Linked DNA regions of Homo sapiens: region 1 is linked to region 2. A link means that fine-mapping ties the variant in region 2 to the expression of a gene that starts in the linked region. Tissue or cell type: whole blood. Region 2 holds a variant in brackets; the other region holds the start of a gene. All regions are shown on one strand. Distances are between the middles of the regions.

Region 1 (2,771 bases), 27 kb after region 2:
ACTTTCAATTGAAATTTCTTGTGAATGACAAACTTGGAATAAGAAAATGAGGGAGACTGGACTCTTGCAACCTTTTGGACATACCTTTGCCAAATGTAAATTGTTTGACGGTATGGATTTACTGCATTTTTCATGCTACCATTTGTAGTAAAACTAAATGGAAAAAATCTTTCCTCTTTAACAAAACCTCGTGATAACAATACCTTAAAATACACTTCATAGCTGCTGGTCAACCATGTTAAAGGCACAATCTGATCTCTGCTGCTACTTTCCTGAGGAAAAGAGCCAATCAGCTGAGCAACTTCCTCATTTGTTGTGCTTTATGAAAATGAAAATGCAACAGACCTTGGGATTTCAAAGCCATCCATGGTTACAAGTGAGGAAATAAATATATAACAGTGGGGACTTTTACTTTATCATTAAATTATAATGCCCTTTGTTTTTCTGTTGGCTAATTCAGACAGCAAAATGGCTCTCTCTTGATTTGCAAGAGTTAATTTCTTACCATACTTTCTGCATCACACCATAAAGATAACTTCAAGTAATTTTGGTTAGATTGTGTTTTATTCATTTGTTTGTTTTGGAGTTCTAGGATCTGACAGGAAAGCAGTGTGAAACAGGCAAAGTTCAGAGTTACTCTCAGAACGACTCAAGCAGGATCCATTTCCTAGTTCCCCCCAGCTGCGGATTTTAAAGTCTGGATCTAGCTCCTGCTCTTGTTTCTCTAAATATTTATCAGTTAACAATTACACATCTGCTCCAATGGCAACAAACTTGGCTGAAGAAATAATGCTTTTCTTCCTCCCACCAAAATATGCAAAATAATGCAAGTCCATCTGAAGATTTTCGAATCCAATTATCAGACTTAAGTCCCCCTATTTTAACACTCATTTTATTAAACATATTGGAAAGTTATGTTATTTCAGTATGCTCTCTTTCTCCTTGTTTGCTTTCTATTGTTCCTACTCGTTTGGTTCTTTCCAGTAAGCTTCTCTAGTGAGTATTTTGCTCTCTTATCATACATGCCGGCTATAGTGAAGTTAATAGAAGTGCTTAGTAAAGTCCTCTGAATCCTGGTATAAGAATCCTTTCACACAGAAGAGAATTCCTTTCGCTTGGAAATATTTTAAGAAATAAATTTATGAAAGATTGTCTGATATGATTTAGATCATATTTGATCAGGACACTAAACTGAGACCTGCATTTTGCATGCCTTTTATTTTTATATTTGCAAAGGGCTCTTTACACAAGTTTACTTAAATTGACCTTTAATGCTTTACATAAATGCAGTTTTTGCAAACCCGAGTCAAAGCAGAAAATAGAAGTTTTACTCACCTTAGTATATTGAATCTTCAAATCGGTGAGTAGGACAGGTAAGTCTGGCGTGCCTGAGGATGACATTTCTGATTCGGCTCCTGGAACACAGGTGACTGGCTCAGCAATTTGGTTCTGATAGAGCACTTGGCTTTATTTGTTCCTTTTTTATCTGCACGGGCTAAAGTTTATTTGCATACTCGGATACGATTGGATGAACAAACTCAGAGCAAAAAAAGAAAACGACACTACTTATTTGTAACACCTAGGGCAGGAAGCCTTTGACTTTAAACTTAAATCCTTAAGAAACCAGTGCTCCAGCATCGAATTTGTACCTGGAGACAGTGCACTATTTGCAGATGAATTAATTTACAAAGCCGAAACCTGTGATAAGTGTATGCAGCAGCTGCTCTGGCCACTAAGGCCAGTTATTATTTTTTTGACTTCTCATGCTTTTTAATGCTACTATGTAACTTTCTGTTCTCTGACAGACTTGGAATCAGAGAATTTGAGGATTGAAAAGAGTCTAAAAGGGCACTTGTTCTCAGTAGAAGCTGGCCAGGTGTCTTCAGGACAAGGCTTTCAGGAAATCAGTCCATCTCCCAGAAAATCAAGGTGCTGTTTGGGGAAGAAAGGCCCTTTATCTACACCCTACCCTAAGTTAGTTTTAAAATATCGTATCAGTCTTGTGTATTTTCAGTGCTGGGTAAGTAGACCTACTGTGATCTCAGAAGCCCTAAATTATCTTTATTTTCTATATGTGAACAGAAAAGCCAGCAGGACTTTTAGGGAATTCGGAACACACTGTCACACACAATCACCACAATTAGAAATATGGCAATATCATCTATTAATACTCATTTAAAATGAAAGTAATCCTGGTTTTGGAAGTTGTCTGTATTTATCAACATAGGCAGTGTACAAAGACTAAATTTAAGCAGGGCTTCCAAACAATTCAAGTTCTTAAATTAATATTTAGCTGAAGGACAATTTTTTAAACAGTGTTACTCCCATTTTAAGTACAATACTTTATTGTATTGTAGCTCTAGCAAACGTTACAATAGGAACAAGATAAAATACTCTGGATGCTCTGATTGTGGAGAATCAACCAATTTTTTTTTTTCTAGTGAAACTTGCCAATTCCCCTGAATATGGGACTTACATAGGGAAACTAAAAATTTCTGAATTGTTTGCCCAAATCAGGTGCAGCACTTGTTTCCCTTTCTACCCTCATTTCATATCCCCATTTTAGAGACATACAGAGGGTGAGTAGCTTACTTATGGTCACAGATCTATTAGTGCAGGACCAGAATTTCATTTCAGGCCAGTCTGACTCCCAAACCTGGACTCTTATTTCTGTTTACTATTTCTACCCTATTCTCCACAAGAGAACTCCTACATGGGTTCAAGCATCAACTGCTTTGGTTTTCTCAGTGAATAGTCACCCTTACAGGCAT
Region 2 (2,771 bases):
ATTACTTAGTAAATTGTTAAGTAAATACTGTCATCCCATTCATGATTCAACATCACAGGTTGATTTCAATCTTCATTAAAGAATTCAGGTGAAGGCATGGGAACTGAGTTGGGCACATTACAATTTCATGTTATTTGCATCGAAATGTTTCATTTTGACATCTCTTTTCCCTGTTTTTAATTTCAATAAATAATATCTTTAAAAGATAAGTTCAGTTTTGTAACTTTAAGTTTCTAGTGATTAACATTTATTTTTTAAGATTTGGTAAGATGAAGAAAAAAGGACAATGAATTGTTTGCAAGTATATTAACACAATCTAGATAGCTGATGAAAATGTTTTACATGTTCTTTTACTGTTTTTGAACAGGAAGATAAATGCAGAGGAACTCATAATAGAAAACTGAATATAAACATATCCACTCATGAGTAGATTGAAAAGTGTTTGGAAATAATGTGGCCCAATATTACAAACAAGCATATTGGCATAGAGGCCCTTTCAACCTTACATAGATTAGTTTACACAATTTTGCAGAAAACACTAGGCCATCAGTGGCAGGTACAAACCAACTTAATGTTTCAACATTTGAAAGAATGCTACATTAATTTCAACATGAATTTATGTTCATGAGAGTTGGACAAAGAAGCAAAAATGTGATCCCAAGTTGACTGTTTGACACCAAACCTTTGTGTTTGGCTTCCTGTCTGCATTTGGGCAGAGATGAATTTGGGGTGACTGCCAGAAATTGCAGCCAGCCGTCATGCTAAATGTATTCCCCCCACTGGACAGGAGCCATCTGTAAATAATGTACTTTATAGTAGCAACAAATGAGGTCTTCCTATTGTAATTTAGGATTCTTGAGTTCTTGAGCATATTTTGATTTCGGGAGACTTACCTCTTTTATTAAAGATGCCACGTGGAGAGCAGTGAGAGGAGTTTGCTCTGCTGGTTTGACAACCACTGTGTTTCCACAGCTCAGTGCAGGCCCTATCTTCCAAATGAGCATAACCAACGGGAAATTCCACTAGAAAGCAATATGTAACAATAGATTCTTTGTATTGCAAAAG[G/A]CATATTTGCTAATCCAACTTCCATATTATACACCCCCTGTAGATGTTATGTAATAATTGCGTAGTTTTGTGAAATCATCTGGCATATTATACTTCATTGCTAAAAGCAACTAGTAAATGCTAAAACGCTCTGAATAAACCAGATATGAGATATGAGAAGGAAATAGGAGAGAACCTCAAAATTTAATCAAGTACTGTTGAGTTCTTTTTCTACCAGGAAAAAAAAAATCACTGCATGGTTTGGCTTATTATGGAGCACACTGTAAGTTATCTAAAAATGTTTAAAAAGGATGATTACTCTCCTTCTCCATAAGTCATTTATTGTAATTATTTACCCAATAATATTATTTAGTAGCTTTTATTTCCAGGAAAAATACCTTGCTAAAGACAAAGATGTCCAGGGTCCAGAGGCCAAGTACTTGGGTTCAAATCTCAGCTCAATCACTGACCAGCCATGTGAACTCACACAGGTTACGTGCTCTCTGTATCTGATTTCATAATCTGTGAGTGCTGATAATAGTCCTCTCTGCCTCAGAAGGCTGTCTTGAGCATTAACCAAGAAAGAGGGCCAGGGGCTCAACACAATGACTGGTCTAGCATAGACAAGTAGTACATATCAGCTATTATCAGTGTTCATAATTATATAGTTTTTATCGATTTATTGGGACTTTTGAATTAATAAGCAATTTCACTAAAATATTGATATGAATATATTTCAATCTCATTGGAGCCAAAGATAAGTCTTGACCATTTCTTCACATAAGGACTTCGCTACCATTTTTTTGTTTGGCCTTTTAAAGCATGTCAGTTAAAATAAAATCATTTAGATAGTGTCCTGTTTGTTGGGCTTAAAAAATCTTCACAATCCTCTTAAAAAGGCTACTTTCCTCTAAGAGTAATATGGAGGATCTGAGCCTCTTATCTAAAGGTAAAATATATTCCATGCAGTGCTTCAAATGCCTCTGGTATTCTTTTTTCCATTTTGATTAAAAAATGTGTGTCATGAGTTGAACACTCTGGGAGCTACTGTTCTGCATGATGAGATGTCTCAATGAGAAAGTGCGTTGGAGAATAGTAGGCCCCACTACATTCCACCAAAATGCTATCCTGCAGATGTGCAGTGGAGAGCACCTTGCCATATACATGTAAAGCTTGGCTCTTATAAAGAGTACATAATACAACTTTTAATAAAACAACCCATAGAGTAAAGGGTTAACATTTATGGATGATGTAGTATTAAAACATTCTCAAGAGATATGCCAGAATATAGATAGGTTTTCGGACTACCTAATTCATATGCAAGAAGTTTAGTCACAGGGAGACCAAGTTCAACAAATCTTACATTTACTCCACATTTAACAAATACATAAGCATCCATCTGTTTTAGAGAAAGCTTCATCATTAGATAGAATAAGAACTCTTCTTTTTAAAATTGAGAATTATATAGGAGAAAAGCTTACAGGAATGATTTGGCCACATACACCAATAGGTTCATGTCTTGTATATGTAAAAAAATTTCCATCTGAAAAATAAAACACACACAATCATATATAAACAAATGTATTTGACATTCACAAAATGGTGGTTGGTGATGTGAGAGAAAGGTGTAGACAATAATTTTAAAAACATATATCTGGCCAGGTGTGGTGGCTCACGCCTGTAATCCCAGCACTTTGGGAGGCCGAGGCAGGCAGATCACGAGGTCA

The links. PIP is the estimated chance that this variant, and not a neighbour inherited with it, causes the effect.
Region 1: it holds the start of ALDH1A1, and the variant in region 2 is fine-mapped to the expression of ALDH1A1 in whole blood (TOPMed, PIP above 0.99).

Annotation. Positions count from the first base shown.
Region 1 is chr9:72,951,600-72,954,370 of GRCh38, forward strand. ALDH1A1 (aldehyde dehydrogenase 1 family member A1) reads right to left here and starts at 1,454. Exons shown (of 13, transcript NM_000689.5): 1 at 1,336-1,454. The coding sequence starts at 1,401.
Region 2 is chr9:72,924,591-72,927,361 of GRCh38, forward strand. ALDH1A1 (aldehyde dehydrogenase 1 family member A1) reads right to left here. Exons shown (of 13, transcript NM_000689.5): 5 at 2,526-2,587; 6 at 894-1,022. Among named protein-coding and RNA genes, the nearest start is that of ALDH1A1, 27 kb to the right of the region's middle. The variant G/A (reference allele first, on the strand shown) is at 1,066.